3 linked regions of the Homo sapiens genome follow. The protein of the gene in region 2 interacts with the protein of the main gene of each other region in a pairwise test. Each region holds a gene or a part of one and is shown on either strand. Other genes may lie near its edges.

Region 1 (6,967 bases), on a different chromosome or scaffold from region 2:
TCTCGATCTCCTGACCTCTGGTGATCCACCTGCCTTGGCCTCCCAAAGTGCTGGGATTATAGATGTGAGCCACCATGCCTGGCCAGGAGATGAATTTTTAAATACTAATAATAATACACACAAATAATAAAATTACCACCACCACCACCACCACCACACACCCCGTTTCCTTCTCACTTATCTCTGTGCTTCTCACAACCTCACAAGGTGTGACATGAACCCCCACCCCAAGCCCACAGGCTGGTGCTGCCCTTGCGCCCAGGCTGGTGAATGTGCCCATCTCCCCGGCTCCTCCCCACTTCCTCTTTGTCCTTCCTCTTTCCCATCGTATTTTTAGAAATCTTTGAGCTTGCAGCCCTGCTTCCAGGACAGCTGGCCTCACTTCCCCTTTCCAGGGCAGGAGGAGGATGCCATCTCAGGGCCCTAAATAAAGAGGCCCCTCAAAGTCTCAGTAGGAGGGACCCTGGGGCAGAGGGGGTGTGGGTGGAGCTGCTCCCCGCCCCAGCCCCACAAGCCCCACAGGCTCTGCGGAGTGCGGCTTCCTCCCCCGCCGCCCCCCCACCGCCCCAGCCGAGCTGGCTCTATTTTTAACTGCGCTGCCTGTCTTCTCTGCACCAGCACAGTGCTTGTCTTTGGCCACACTGGGGCTTTGCTGTCTGGCCCTCTCACCTTCCCGGCAGGCCCTGGGGGAGGGCGCCTTACCTGCTTCCCGACACAGGCCCACCTCAGGAGAGGAGGGGAGGCAGCCCTGGGGGCCCCTGAGTCACCAGCCTGTCCATAATAAAGGTGAGAAAACTGAGGCCCATAGAAGGAAGAGACCATGACCACTGGCAGGGTGGTGCAGAGCTGGAACCTGAGCGAGGTCCGGCTAACTCCCAATCCCCGCTTCCCCAGGCCAGGCCAGGATGATGGCACCCACGTAGAGATGACAAATCAGAACTCAGAGAGGGGAAGTCACCGTGCCATGAAGAAGCCCCATTTAAGACCCAGTCTGGGCAACAGGGAAATGACCTTTTCTCCCTCCCTCTGGCCTCCTCCTCAAGGAGGTCTTCCCAGATCTCCTCTGCCCCAGTGGGAAAAGTTGCTTCCTCCCATCTGTAGGTCTGTGTCCATTTGCACAGCTGGGTCAGGGTCCTGCAGGATGTGGCTCCTGCCTCTCCACCCCACCCCCAACATTCCAGACCAACACCTGTCCCCCAGGGTTAGGCCCATGGCTGGGTCACTGCTGTCCCCAGCACTGCATAGCACACTGGAAGGTCGTTTGTAGAGTGAATGAATGAAAAGACCAACTACTCGATGGAGAACCCATTGACCCCATTTAATCCATTTCCTCCCTAGTACCGGCTGAAGCAAAGCAGAGACTCCCCTCCCCTGCCCTCTCCATAGCCCCGGCCAACCTGGGGCTCTCTCCCGCAGGTTCTCGTCCCTGCTCTGCTGCTGACTGGCCGTGTGACCTCAAGCAAGTCAGTCCCCGTCTCTAGTTCACCTCTGGGAGCCTCAGTTTCCTTATCTGCAACATGGAGACAGCCATCCCTGTAACCTCAGTATGTTAGGACCCGAAAGGACAAAGCGCCCTGCTGGACACACAGGCAGGGGGGTTGCATCTCGGTGGGTGCCCTCCCCCCCTCATCCCACCCTCATGTCTGCTGAGAGGCCTGAGCCAGGTGCTGCCCTTCGCTGGGTCTCCCTGTGCCAACCAGGTGCCCCCAAGCTGTGCTCACTGAGCTGTGATTTTGGGAGCCCCCAAAGCCCATGGGAGAGGCAGGGGTCAGAGTGAGCCCTGGATAGGGATTCAGGGAACAGGATTTGGTCCTGCTCCTGCCTTAGAGAGGCTGTTTTCCTCCCTTGGCCTCTTTTCTCCCTTCTGCCACTGGGGGGGCTGTTGAAATGGATCAGTGGTTCTCTGGGTTCCCTGGGGCCCGAGGCTTCCATCTGGGGGTGGGGAGGAAGGGGGATGCCCAGTGGGCGGGGCCAGGCTGCTCCACATTAGGTGCGTTTGAAGCAAGGGTGCTCCTGGACAAGGCTGAGGTCATCTGGACCTGGGGAGCAGACAGCTCCCACGAGCCCTTAGGTTCTGGAATTCCAGCAGCCGTGTTCACCAGAACTGTTGCAGCTCTGGAGCATGCTGACATCCAGGGTGCAGAAACTTGGCCCCTCTACCGGGCCTTCAATTTGCCTCCCAAAACACGACCCTGATGTTCTTTTCCTCACCATCTTTGCAGCCTCCTTTCTCCTCTTTCTCCCCAGACACATTGTCTTAGTAGCTGGGGAGGGTTTCAACCAGAGCCTCTGTTGCTCACTCCTGGCCCTCCCCTGGCTCTAGGCAGCGTCCTCAGCCTCCCCAAAGACCACCCCAACCCCCGGGGGCCAAAAAGGGGCCTCAAGGCCCTTGTATCACCCAGACAAGCATCGCCATCACCAACATCCCATCATCATCTTAATCGCAAGTCACTTTTCTGAGTCCACCTCTGAGCCTTTGGACTGGCTGTTCCTTCTGGCTGGAATGTTTGTTCCTTAGAAAGCCCCTTAGCTGACATCTTCCTCAGGTCCCTCATCAGACAGCATCTCCTCTTGGGGCCTTTTCCACCATGCATTCCTGTCTTCCTTACCCTGCTTTACTGTTCTTCATCCTACCTGCCATCAACTGACATATGGAATCACATTAGAGTCACTGCCGGTCTCCTCATCTAGAGCACAAGCCTATGAAGGGGGAAACAGCGTCTGCTTTGCTACTGCTGTGTGTCCAGCCCCTAGAACGCAACTGGACACACAGGCTGAGCCCACAAATGTTTGCTTCTTGCAGCTGCATTTCCCACCTGCGCTGTATTCCTTTATCTAGGACCCTGTGAGGCAGGGGCTGCTGTCCCATTCTAAAAGAGAGCACCCTGAGGCCCAGAGAGGTTGACGGCAGTTGCTTACCTGGGTGGCACAGGTCCATTCCGACGCCTCTGGGGAAAAGATGACCCGTGCTCCTGTCGCTTGCCGACCCAGCTGCTGTTCGGGCTGGCCCGGCAAGGATGCGTCACCTTGACTGTAACAGGCTCCTTCCTGCTTGCCCCGCCCAGCCCTGTGTGGGGAGGAAGTCAGTCCTGGCCCACGGGGGTCTCGTGTGCAGGCTTTTGACAAAACAGCACTTCCTAAAAACTGGCAGAGTTTTGAGCAGCAGGGACTTTTGCCAGGGAGGGACAGAGGTGGAAACAAACAAACAAACAAACAAACAAACAGATGAAGTGAGGGGAGGGCCAGATAAAAAAGAGAAAGACAGTGAGACAGAAAGAAACACACAGACACATATGCACATACACACGTACACATGCACAGACACCGAGGGCGATGTTCACTGAGGACGAACATTTTCCAGGGGACCATGGGCATTCACGTGGCAGCCTCCTCACATATATGCCATAGGAGCGCCCAACTTGGACAGTCCTAGCAGGGCCCCCTGTGTTCCACCCCACAAGCTCTCTTCCAACTCCCACTTGAGAAGAGACAAATGAATTCACTGCTAGGAAGGGCTTTGCTTCCCTTCAAAGAAATATCTGGCTTTTTCTTGTCTAGTGAACAATCGGGTAATATGTTCCACTTTCCTTCTCCCCCAGGCTGCTGGGAAACTCATCGTCAAATCCAAAGCTCATCGACAGCTATTCTATGATGTCATGTGAACTTTGGGGCCTGACTCAGCTGTTTGACTCTCAGCTAGGGCTAGTCAGCCTCGCTTTGCTTATCTCTGAAAGGGGAATAACACTAACTCGGGGATATGGAAACCATGGAGTGAGAGGATGTGTCGGAGATGCTTGGGACATAGTAGGTGCTCAATAAACACTTTCTCCTTTGATTTTAATTATCTTCTTTGGTTAAAATGTATCATGTTATTCCTTGTGCCTTTTCTGGCAGGTTGGTTCAAATCCTTTCTGCAAAAAGCTTTGCTGTAAAGAAACAGGTATAAATTAAATGTGAATTCCCTATAACTTCAGGACACATGCAGAGTTATTCATCTGTTTCCCCATTACTCTCCAGGCCCCATGAGGGCAAGGTTACCTTTTGTGTTCTGGTGTGTGGTAAAATGCTGGGGACATAGAGGGTGTGCAAGTGTGGAATGAATGAACAAATGAATGAATGAATGAATGAATGAAGGGAACATGGAAGAGATCACGGCCGATGTGAAAGCTAGCTACAAGTTCACCTCCTTTTCACTATGCCGCCGCTTCTGCTGTCAAGGGGCGAAGTCCATTTCTCCTTCCTTGGAAGCTGAGCTGGCCTTGGGCATCTCTTTGACCAATAGCACGTGGCAGAAATGATGTGCCGTGATGTTCGAGGCTGAGCTTTAAAAGGCCTTGCAGCTCCTGCTCTTGCTCTCAGCCCCCTGCCTGGCTACCATGAGAACAAGCCTGGGCTAGCCTGTTGGAAGACGGAGGACCACAAGGAGATAGGCTGGGCTGTCTTGGCTGTCCCCTGGTTGCTGCCTCATCAGTGAGGCCAGGGGACACCAGAAGAAGAACCATCAAGCGGAGTCCCACCCAAACTGCTGACCCATAGCACTGTGGGAAATAATACATTTTTGTGGTTTAAGCCACCAACTTCTGGGATGCTTTGTTATGCAGCCAAAGCTTGCTGATACAGAAGAAATCCAATGCTGTCATTTCCTCGGAGAGAAAACTGAGGCTTATTTCTGGGAAACACTTGACCAAGTTGGAACTTGAGTGAGTGCCAATTCAGGCCCAGAAGCCAGGCCTACTAAGTCCCCGTCTAGTGTGCTCAGGATTTTTGAACCCCGCTGCTTCTCCCCTGCCCTGCCTCCACCTGGGTTCTTGTATAACTCATGGTTCTTTTCTGGAAAACTTGTTACAATTATTTCCATGGTAAACTAGATTTTTCTCAACTGCTTTGGGCCTGAGGCACCACAAACCATGCCCTTGGCCATTTTAAAACTAGAAATGTGGGCTGGGCATAGTGGCTCATGCCTGTAATCCCAGCACTTTGGGAGGCCGAGGCGGGTGGATCACAAGGTCAGGAGATCAAGACCATCCTGGCCAACGTGGTGAAACCCCGTCTATACTAAAAATACAAAAATTAGCTGGGCATGGTGGCGGGTGCCTATAATGCCAGCTACTTGGGAGGCTGAAGCGGGAGAATCACTTGAACCAGAGAGTCGGAGGTTGCAGTGAGCTGAGATCGCGCCACTGCACTCCAGCCTGGCAACAGAGTGAGACTCCGTCTCCAAAAACAAAACAAAAGAAAAAACAAAACAAACAAAATAACCCCTAGAAATATGGAGAAAGGTATATATAATTCCCTGTGCAGAAAGACTTCACACTGCAGGCCGGAGACTGCTATCTTTAGAAAGTCATGCTTGCAAAGTTGACCCTTGGCTGGCACCTGGGAGCTTGGATTTGGGGAGGGCTCCCACCACCCTAACTGATGAGAGTGGCTTACTGGGCCTAACCTATTTGCCTAGCGTCCCTGGCAGCATCCCATCTCACAGGTGCTTTCACGACTTGTTGCTGGAGGAATTGAGCGTGTCCCGTGTGACTCTTTTGGGAGCAGACTCTTGGAAGCTGCCCCTGGTTTCCTCTGGACTTCGCCACGGCGCCTTTGCGGATTCTGCTTTGAGTCCTTTCACTGCCATAGATCATAGCCGTAAGTATGACCATGAGCTGAGTCCTGGGAGTCCACCTAGTAAACCACTGAACCTGGGATGGCCTTGGGGAAGGCTGCCTGATCTTGCGGCTGATCCAGTAAATGTGTCTTGACCAGGCCACGGTTTGGCATCTGACACTTCCCTTTTGTCTGATGGATGGTCACGGTTGTGTGGTTCAGCTATTGTTACTGTCTTATTCTCTAAGACATACCTCAAATACCACCTCCTCTGTGAGGTCCGTTGTGATGACACCTCCCCTCCCTCTTTCCCACAACGCTGGTCATGTTTAACGGCTTATATGCAGACAGCCTGGGAGGGAGGGACTCTTTCACTGTGAGCAGCAAAGAGTTTAGCAGAACTGACTTCATCATTTTCTCCGTCACTCCTTGTCCAGGTTTGGCTGCAAGATTTGCTGGGAACCAATAGCACAGGCAATGAGGAGAGCAGGAAGCTGGACCCAGGGGAGTCACAGAGAACTGGATTTGAATCCTGACTCAGCTCTTGTGAGCTGTGTGATCTTCTTCCTTCCCCTCCGAGCCTCATTTTTAATCATTTAAAATCATCTACAAAATGGAGACAGTTCAGGTTAGGTTTGCCTACATGAAACAGAAAACCCAAATAATAATAATGGTTTAAAGAAACTAGAGGTTTATTGATCTCTTACAAGAAAGAAACCTGAAGTGGGCAACACATGGCTGCCCTGTAGCAGCCTGGGCATGGATCCAGGATCCTTCTAACTTTCGGCTGCTGTCCTCAAATTCTCTTCATGGTCCAAAGTGGCTGCTTGATCTCCAGCTATCATGTCTAAATTCCAGGTAGGAGGAAGGATGAAAACGGGAAGGAATCCCCTTAAAACTTTCTGGCCTGAGATCAGTCCTTCTGCGCTACATCAGGCTCTGGTTCCCACCTGTGTACCAGGCAGGGGATCCGCAGTTGGTTCTGGGACAACAAATGAGAGTCTCCAAACACGAGATCTGGGAGGTCCTAAAAAAACCATCACTGCTATTTCTGGAGTGCCTGCTATGGAGTGCCAGACACTGTGCTAAGTGCTTGTCATCTCATTTAACCCTTTCCACCATTCAACAAATTACATTATTACAACCCCTCTTTCATAGATGAGGGAACTGAGTTCAGAGAGGTTAAATCACTTGCCCAAGGTCACGCAGCCAGGAGAAAGCAAAGTTCAGATTCAAGCCCTGAACTGTCTGACTTCAGATCCCCACACTCAGCTTGTACAAGCGTCACTTTAAACATTTCAGAAGTTCACCGACCTGCCCTCCCCACTCCCTGCACTTCCTTTGAGGGAGAGATAGGAAGGGTCTAGCATCT
Region 2 (2,810 bases):
CATATCCAAGTGAAAGAAGCCAACCTGAAAAGGCTCCACACTTGGCGATTCCAACTATATGACATTCTGAAAAAAGCAAAACTATGAAGACTGTAAAAAAGATCAGTGGTGGCCAGAGGCTGGAGGGGGAGGGAGGGATGAACAGGCAGAGCACAGAGGATTTTTAGCGCAATGAAAATACTCTATATGGTACTACATATACTCTATAATACTCTATATGGTACTACAATGGTGGCTACATGTCACTATGCATTTGATCAAACCCACAGAATGTACAACACCAGCAGCAAACCCTAATACAAACTTACGGACTTTGGAATAATTATGTGTCAATGTAGGTTCAAAGACTGTCACTAGTGTACCTCTCTGGAGGGATGGTGATAATGCGGGAGATTATGCATTTGTGGGACGGGAGTCTATGGGAACTCCCTGTACTTTCTGCTCAGTTTAGCTGTGAACCCAAAACTGCTCTAAAATATTGTCTATCTTTTATTAAAAGAAAGAAAGAAAGAAAGAAAGAAAAAGGCAGCATGCTGGTGTCAACTGGCCCCAGCCTCCTCACACCTTTATTAAAACTCTGAGTTTAGGAAGGCTGCTAACGCTGCTTTTCAATAGGTACGAACTGGCTGGGGAAGGCGAGGACGACAAAGGAAGGCAGGGGATTCTCTTTTGCCCAGTGTTCGGTGTCCCAAACTCGGCGTCCCGGTGCAAGGCCGAGGCCTCAGACCCTGCTAGGCTTCTTGGGGTCCTGGCTCCTGGCCGGCATGAAGGCGTAGAGCTCCTCGATGAGCATTTCCATGCGCGCGGTGACCTCGGTCACGGTGTCAATGACCAGCTTCTGCTGCAGCTTCAGCTTGTTGTTCTCCCACAGGGCCTTGTTCTCCTCCTGGAAGCCCCTGTGCTCTGCCCGTAGCACCTGCAGGGTCCTGTTCTCCTCCTGCAGGAGCCGGTTCTCCTTGAGCAGGGCCTGCAGCGCCTGCCTCATCTCTCTCAGCAGCTGCAGGGGCTGGCAGCCGTCGGGCAGGCCCGGGCCCACCTTGGCCTCCTCCTCCCCGGAGGGCCCGGACATGTTGCTGACCATCTTCCGCAGGGCGCGCAGCTCCTTGGAGTCCTCCTGCCGGGCCGGAGGCCCTTTGGGCTCCTCGAAGCGGGAGGAGAGGCCGGAGCCCTGGTCCTGCAGCAGCCCGGGGCTGCAGGGCTCCTCGTGGGGTGAGGGGGCGGGCTTGCTTTCCTCGGCAGGGGCGGCCGTGTCCTCTGCCTGCGCCCAGTAGGCCTGTTTCTGCTCCAGCAGCTGCTGCAGCGCGCGATTCTCCTCCCGGAGGAGCTGCAGGGTGCTGTCCTCCTTGCCACGGGGCACCTGCAGGGCGACGTGGTCCTTCTTCACCACCTCCAGGGACGCGCTGTCTTTGTGCAGCAGTGGCGAGGGGGCCCGGCTCTCCTCTCGGCCCAGCGAGGCCTTGTGCTCCTCCCAGAAGACCTGTAGGATCTTGTTCTCCTTGCTGAGCATCCGGTTCTCCTCGCGCAGGGCCTTGTTCTCCTCCCGCAGAGACTTGTTCTCCTCCTGCAGCATGCACTCCTTGGCCAGCCTCTTGTGGTGCAGCTTGTGGTGGAAGGAGGCGGATGGGGAGAAGTAGGGAGACTGCAGGCGGCAGTTCTCATTTACCCAGCGCCCGTCCTGGAACACGAACATCTCGTCGCTGAGCTGCACCCGCGGCGGGTTGTAGTCCAGCTCCAGGTCGGCCTGGGACATGGGGCGCTCCATGGGGTCTAAAGGCACGGAGGAGAAGCGGTTCAGTGGATAGGAGTGCTGGCTCGCCATCCTGCGGCTCAGCCGGGGCAGGGCGGCCTGCTGCGCGCAGCGAGGGGTGCTGTACAAGTTGTGGAGCCTCGGGAAGGGTTCGGCTGTGCCCCTCTGCGGGAGAGAATGGGAAAGCCCAGCGTTAACGATGGGACTGACACACTTGGGGCTGGCTGACAAAGGGGCCAGGACATCCCCAAATAAGCCCCGTCTGATTGTCTGGCCTGGCCACAGTGGGCGCTTTTGCTTCTTGGGGTCCTCACAAGGAAATGTGGCCTATCCTTGTCATTCCAGTGAGTTCTGTTCTATGAAGTCAGTTCCAATACTGAATTAGCAAATATAGAACCATTGCTCCTACAGGAAATAGAGGGCTATGTTCCTGTGAGCCTGTGGTCACAGTTTTGTCAACCAAGCAATACATAACCTCATTTAGTGCGTATTGTTGATTCATTAACATCAAATTCACGTCAGCAGCACTGTCACGCATGCCCAAACAAAACTTCTCTAACACATGTGTTTTCTCCATGTGGCACAGCATAGCCTTCTTGTGATTGGGAATACTAGACAGCACTTGACTTGGAATGGTACAGAAGCCATTTTTAACAGCAAAATCACCAACAAAATGCACAAGAAGGCAAAACAAAAAAAGTGGCACTAGATAGACTGCGCAATGGACACTATTTTCTAGCCTGAGAGCTGAAACAAGAAGGCTCCTTGGCTGGGGACTCAACTTCACACAACTCAAATTTTCACCTCTCCGTGCATGTCTGAGAATTACCATAAAAGTGCTACAAGTATTGATTTGGTGGATACACATTTTAGCAAGTAGGCAAATTCACAAATATGGAATCCGTGAATAATAAGAAACAGTTATATATTATGGTGGTCAAAGGCATTCATTTTAGAGTCAACCAAATATTTTGAGTCTTTGCCTCACTACTTACCAATTAACAAGAATTTGAGCAAGTTATTTGAGCTTTAATTTCCACATTTTCAAATTGGGATAATTGCA
Region 3 (7,070 bases), on a different chromosome or scaffold from region 2:
TGGCTCACACCTGTAAACCCAGCACTTTGGGAGGCCGAGGCAGGTGAATCACTTGAGGCCAGGAATTCAAGACCAGCCTGGCCAAATGGTGAAATCTTGTCTGTACTAAAAATAGAAAAATTAGCCGGGCGAGGTGTCAGGCACCTGTAATCCCAGCTACTCAGGAGGCTGAGGTGAGAGAATCACTTGAACTTGGGAGGCAGAAGTTGTGGTGAGCCAAGATCGTGCCACTGCACTCCAGCCTGGGTGACAGAGTGAGACTCTATCTCAAAAAAAAAAAGAAAAGAAAAGAAAAAAGAAATTTGGAAGGTTTGTAAAAATTTATGGAGTAAATAAGAGAGTAAATGTAAACGCTTATACTCATTTTTTAATTACAGAGTTTAGAATAAATATTTTATCGCTTGACGGTCTGGCTCCAGCTGTCAGTGAGAACTCCGATTTGGAACAGGAAGTAAGTACAACAAAGTCATTTTTCATGGTCGATTGTTTTTGGCTTCAACATTTTTTTTTTTAAATTTTTAAAAAATTTAAAAATTGAGGCAGGGTCTCACTATGTTGCCCAGGCCGTCCTCAAACTGGGCTCAAGCAATCCTCCCGATTCAGCCTCCCAAAGTGCTGGGATTACAGGTGTGAGCGACCATGCCTGGCCCAATGTCGATTCTTATGTGGAAAAGCAAGTAATGTTTCATTTAGGCCTATAGTTTTCAAATCTGCCCCCCAGGGGACATTGGCAATGTCTGGTGACATTTTGGCTGTCATGACTAGGGGGTGGGTGACAGATGCCACTGGCATTGTGAGTGGGTGGAGGCCAGGAACACTGCTCCATATTGTGTAATGCACCGGGTGGCCCCCAGCTGCCAAGAATGTTGTGGCCTCTGATGTCAAGAGTGCAGTAGGTGAGAGACCCTGATTTAGGTGCTAACAGGATGAAGCTACCTTGGTTAGCTGGTGATTAAAGCACATCCCACGTAAAGCCGCCCATGACAACATCTGCACGGAGGCAACACTTCACCAGCCGTATCCAGTCACACTCCCTGTTGTGATTTTTGTCCTGGTGGCCACCGGCACTGTCAGATACACGTGTTGGTTATACACAGTGATGACATTTTATTTTTATTTTAAAATATTTATTGTTTTTATTTTATTATTATTATTATTTTTTATTTTAAACTTTTTTTTTTTTTTTGAGAGAAGTCTTGTTCTTATCCCCCAGGTTTGAGTGCAATGGCTCGATCTCGGCTCACTGCAACCTCCACCTCCCGGGTTCAAACGATTCTCCTGCCTCTGCCTCCCAAGTAGCTGGGATTAAGTCCCCTGCCACCATGCCCAGCTAATTTTTGTATATTTTAGTAGAGACGGGGTTTCACCATGTTGGCCAGGCTGGTTTCGAACTCCTGACTGCAAGTGATCCACCTGCCTTGGCCCCCCAAAGTGCTGGGATTACAGGCATGAGCCACTGCGCCTGGCCTATTATTATTATTATTATTATTATTATTTTGAGACAGAGTCTCGCTCTGCTGCCCAGGCTGGAGTGCAGTGGTGTGATCTCAGCTCACTGCAAGCTCCGCCTCCTGGGTTCACACCATTCTCCTGCCTCAGCCTCCCGAGCAGCTGGGACTATAGGCGCCCACCACCAGGCCCGGATAATTTTTTTTGTATTTTTAGTAGAGATGGGGTTTCACCGTGTTAGCCAGGATAGTCTCGATCTCCTGACCTCGTGATCCGCCCGCCTCGGCCTCCCAGAGTGCTGGGATTACAGGCGTGAGCCACCACGCCCGGCCTTAATTATTATTTTTTTGAGACACAGTCTCGCTCTGTCGCCCAGGCTGGGACTACAGTGGCACAATCTCAGCTCACTGCAACCTCCACCTCCTGGTTTCAAGCAATTCTTGTGCCTCAGCCTCCTGAGTAGCTGGGATTACAGGCACCCGCCACCCTACCCCACTAATTTTTGTATTTTTAGTAGAGATAGTTTCACCATGTTGGCCAGGCTGGTCTCCAACTCCTGACCTCAGGTGATTCACCCACCTTGGCCTCTCAAAGTGCTGGGATTACAGGCATGCGCCACCATGCCTGGCCCAATTTATTTATTTTTGAGACAGGTCTCACTCAGGCTGGAATGCAGTTGGGGGATCATGGCTCACTTCATCCTCGATGTCCTAGGCTCAAGCAATCCTGCCCAGCCTCCTGAGTAGCTGAGACTACAAGCGTGCACCCATGCCTGGCTAATTTTTTATTTTTTTGTAGAGATATGGACCGGCTGGGTTGTCCAGGCTGGTCTTGAACTCCCAGCTTCAAGCAATCCTCCTGCCTCGGCCTTTCAAAGTGCCGAGATTACAGGTGTGAGCCATTGCCCCCAGGCATGATGAAACTTAATTTTTAAAATATTTTTTTTCTTACAGAGGTAGGGTCTTGCTATGTCTCCCAGGCAGGTCTTGAACTCCTGAGCTCAAAGGATCCTGCCGCCTCAGCCACCTAACATTTCATCAGTCCATGATGAAATGTTTTTTTTTTGAGACAGAGTTTTGCTCTTGTTGCCCAGGCCGGAGTGCAATGGTGTGATCTCAGCTCACCATAACCTCTGCCTCCTGGGTTCAAGTGATTCTCCTGCCTTAGCCTGCTGAGTAGCTGGGATTACAGATACGTGCCACCATGTCTGGCTAATTTTGTATTTTTGGTAGAGACGGGGTTTCTCCATGTTGGTCAGGCTGGTTTCAAACTCCCAACCTCAGGTGATCTGCCCGCCTTGGCCTCCCAAAGTGCTGGGATTATAGGCATGAGCCACTGTGCCCGGCTGAAAATTTTTTAATTTTTTTTTTCTTATAGAGGTAGGGTCTTGCTGTGTTGCCCAGGCAGGTCTTGAACTCCTGAGCTCAAAGGATCCTACCGCCTCAACCACCTAAAGTCCTTAAGTCCATGATGAAATGTTAAATGCCATCCACGTGCCACCTAAGCATGCGTCACACCATCAGGATTCCTGCAGCCCCGTGGACATGCCGTACTGAAGACGCCACAGTTCTGTTTAGAATACTCCGTGCCCACATCTAATGAGGACCTGGTGTGTCCCCTTGTCTGCGGGAGTGCTGCAGGTCCCCAGCTCCTAGGAGTGCAGTGTTCCTAGCATGTTGATATTTCCAAAACACTTCCCAGCCACCTCTGCCATTCTTCATTTTAGGAGGAAAGTGCTCAGAGACAAAAAACAGCTGGCAAAATCTTCAGAGCCGAGGCGTCCACTGGGCAGGATGCCCCGAGGCAGGCCCAGGCGAGGAGCTGGGCATCACAGGGAAAGGCCGCCTCTGCAGAGGGGGATGAGAGCGAGGTCTCGGAGCATCTCAGTGCCAGCTCGGCTTCTGCCATCCAGCAGGACAGCACTTCCAGCATGCAGCCACCATCTGAAGCCCCCATGGTGAACACAGTCAGCTCAGCTTATTCGGAGGATTTTGAAAACTCTCCAAGTCTGACAGCATCTGAGCCAACCGCCCATTCCAAGGAGTCTCTTGACAGAACACTGGACGCTTTGTCTGAATCCTCTTCAAGTGTGAAGACAGACCTTCCACAAACAGCCGAGTCTAGGAAAAAGTCGGGCAGGCACGTGACAAGAGTGCTTGTGAAGGACACAGCTGTGCAGACGCCAGATCCTGCCTTCACCTACGAGTGGACCAAGGGTAAGCCTTGGGGCCCGTGGGGGCCGGGGCAGCCGGGACAGGAGCTCAGCGTGTGGTTTACAGCATCCTGGGAGACACGTGGGAGAGCTCAGGTTCCTGAGATTTGGGCTCTTGTTATTAATCACCTGGAGGGGTTGGCCAAGCAAGGTGGCTCACGCCTGTAATCCCAGCACTTTGGGAGGCCGAGGCGGGAGGATCACTTGAGGTCAGGAGTTCAAGACCAGTCTGGCCAACACAGGGAACCCTCATCTCTACTAAAAATACAAAAATTAGCTGGCTGTGGTGGTGTGTTCCTGTAATCCCAGCTACTCAGGAAGCTGAGGCTTGAGAAGAACCCGGGAGGTGGAGGTTGCAGTGAGCTGAGATGATGCCCCTGCACTCCAGCCTGGGTGACAGAATGAGACTCTGTCTCAAAAAAAATAAAAGTCACCTAGGGACCTTGGCTCACCATTTCCTCTTCCATGGACGAGGGACAGCCGCCCTCGTGTGTCCCGATGTCTTCCTAGCCCTGAAGCATTCAGAAGGATCAGAACCAAGGACTAGGGTAGCACCTCCCACAGGATGATTCACGGGGGGACTCCAGCAAGGTCTGGAGACATTATTAGTTGTCACAACTCAGGGTGGGGAATGCTATCGGCATCTGCTGGGTGGAGGCCAGGGGTGCTATTCCACACCCCGCAGTGCACAGGATGCCTTTGTCCTGGAGAATGAACACCCTGGGTGACTTTCCAGATATTTCTCTCTCTCTCTCTCACTCTGTTTTTAGAGATGGGGTCTTGCTATGTTGCCCAAGCTGGAGTACAGTGACCCAATCATAGCTCACTGCAGCCTCAACCTCCCTAGGCTCAGGTGATCCTCCTACCTCAGCCTCCTGAGTAGTAGGATTACAAGCATGCGCCCCCATGCCTGGCTAATTTTTATATTTTTTGTAGAGACAGGGTCTTGCCATATTGCCCAGCCTGGTCTCAAACTCGTGGGCTCAAGCAATCTGTCAGCCTTAGCCTCCCAAAGTGTTGGGATTACAGGCGTGAGCCACTGCACCCGGCCCTGTATCTTTTTTTTTTTTGAGATGGAGTCTCACTCTCTTGCCCAGGCTGGAGTGTAGTGGTGCGATCTTGGCTTACTGCAACCTCCACCTCCTGGGTTCAAGCGATTCTCCTGCCTCAGCCTCCTGAATAGCTGGGATTACAGGTATGTGCCACCACGCCCAGATAATTTTTGTATTTTTAGTAGAGATGGGGTTTCACCATGCTGGCCAGGCTGGTCTCAAATTCCTGACCTCGTGATCTGCCTGCCTCGGCCTCTCAAAGTGCTGGGATTATAGGTGTGAGCCACCGCACCTGGCCCCCTGTATAATTTTAAAATGTTCTTTGTAGAGACAGGGTCTCCCTATGTTCCCCAGCCTGGTCTTGAACTCCTGGGCTCAAGTGATCCTTCCACCTGCTCATGTTGGCCCCCCAAGGTGCTGGGACTACAGGCATGAGCCACCATGCCTGGCCTTCGGGCATTTCTCTCATTCCCAGCTTCAGTCTCGGCTCTTGCTGGTGGAAAGGCCCCATTCTTTTAAACATTCCCATGTTATTATTTTATTTTATATAATTTTATTTTATGAGATGGGGTCTCGCTCTGTTGCCCAGGCTGGAGTGCGGTGGCACAATCTCGGCCCACTGCCTCCTCCACCTCCTGGGTTTCAGCGATTCTCCCACCTCAGCCTCCCCAATAGCTGGGACTAGAGGCGCCTGGCTAATAAACATTCCCTTTTAATATCTCTTTTCTCATCCATATGGCTCTTGACAAGGTAGACTGGATGTGAAAAATGATGTAGTTCCCAGCCTGGCCAATATGGTGAAACCCCGTCTCTACTAAAAATACAAAAATTAGCCTGGTGTGGTGGCACGCATCTGTAGTCCTAGCTACTCGGGAGGCCGAGGCACAAGAATCGCTTGAAACCAGAAGGTGGAGGTTGCAGTGAGCTGAGATCGTGCCATAGCACCCCAGCCTGGGCGACAGAGTGAGACTCTGTCTCAAAAAAAAAAAAAAAAAAAAAAAAAGGCAATGTAATTCTCACTGGATCTATTTGTTTTGATTTGGGGGCTTAACCTAACATCAGCCTGACGGGCCCCCCAGGAGAGGGTGAGTGGTGTCTGTTTCTCAGGAGGGAAAGTCAATCACATGGACTGAGTCAAATCACCTTGGAGGTGTTAAATGGTATTTTCAACCTGGGATCTGGGCTCAGAATTGTTTGTGTCTCTCTGCACTTCTGTCCATATTTTTGGCAATTTAGGGATGCTTTCATGAAACACTGGCGAGGCTGTTTTCCTAGACTAGGACTGACAGGGAAAGGAGAAAGAAAAAACAGCAGCCATAAACACGCTGGCCTCAGAGCCCAGAGAACACGCAACATCCTGAGGTCAACAGTGACCCTTAGAAGAAGGGCTGGGAAAGCACATCCTCCACTGCTCTCGACTGCAGCCACCGTGAGCCGGAGCCACCGCTGCACCCAGCTAGGATACCCGTGCCTTGAGCCAAGAAAACCTAGCAGAAAAATGGAGGCAGCCTTGGGAAATACTTGAAAGGGGAAGAGGGTAAAAAAAAGTAAAGAAGGGCCGGGTGCGGTGGCTTACACCTCAGCACTTTCAGAGGCTGAGGCAGGAGGATTGCTTGAGCCTAGGAGTTCAAGACCAGCCTGGGCAACATAGGGAGACCCTGTCTCTACAAAAAATTTTAAAAATTAGCCAGGCGTGGTGGCGCACCTGTAGTCCCAGCTACTTGGGAGACAGATGGGAGGATTACGTGAGCCCAGGAGGCTGTAGTGAGCTGTGATCATGCCGTGCACTCCAGACTGGGCAATAGAGCAAGACCCTGTCTCAAACCAAAAAAAAAAAAAAAAAATGCAAGAGTGGCGATCACCTTCAGAAAGAGGGAAGAACAAGGTCACGTAGTTTATTCCAGGGTCGTATCTGTGGACCCGAAAGTCATTTCTCTGCGTCCTGCCTGCTTACCCCTCTCTTTGTCCCCGAGATAGTGGCCAGCATGGCAGCCATGGGGCCTGCCCTGGGAGGCGCCTACGTGGACCCGACACCCATCGCCAATCATGTTATCAGTGCAGATGCAATAGAAGGTAACAGCCCGGCTCGGGGGATCCTTCCTGTCACATTTTACAGGACTCATTTCACCTGCAGATTCACACCCACTCTGGAGGTGTGGCACCCCTTGCATGCTGGCTTCCAGGGGTCCATTGGGCAGGGATTATTGCAGCCACAGGCACCTGCCATGAGGAGAGAAAAGGTGTGGATGCCCTTGAACCTTCTGTCTCTTGCAAAGAGACACCAATGTCACACAAAACAAGAGGGTGAAGAGTGATGCTTCTGTGCCCTGCACCCCAACAAGGCCACTTTTTTTGTT

The links. Proteins that work in one complex are often made in the same cells at the same time.
Region 1: the proteins of CBY2 (region 2) and CYTH4 interact in binary tests that used the Homo sapiens proteins (3 or more experiments, as listed by UniProt).
Region 3: the proteins of CBY2 (region 2) and C19orf44 interact in binary tests that used the Homo sapiens proteins (3 or more experiments, as listed by UniProt).

The regions. Positions count from the first base shown.
Region 1 is NC_000022.11:37,278,541-37,285,507, reverse strand, and holds the start of CYTH4 (cytohesin-4), read right to left. Parts: upstream 3,001-6,967; 5' UTR 2,939-3,000; coding exon 2,920-2,938; intron 1-2,919. UniProt on the Homo sapiens protein: Promotes guanine-nucleotide exchange on ARF1 and ARF5. Promotes the activation of ARF factors through replacement of GDP with GTP.
Region 2 is NC_000013.11:45,712,284-45,715,093, reverse strand, and holds the end of CBY2 (protein chibby homolog 2), read right to left. Parts: intron 1,913-2,810; coding exon 722-1,912; 3' UTR 535-721; downstream 1-534.
Region 3 is NC_000019.10:16,506,324-16,513,393, forward strand, and holds part of C19orf44 (uncharacterized protein C19orf44), read left to right. Parts: intron 1-377; coding exon 378-451; intron 452-3,175; coding exon 3,176-3,665; intron 3,666-4,758; coding exon of another isoform or gene 4,759-4,844; exon of another isoform or gene 4,845-6,683; intron 6,684-6,690; coding exon 6,691-6,786; intron 6,787-7,070.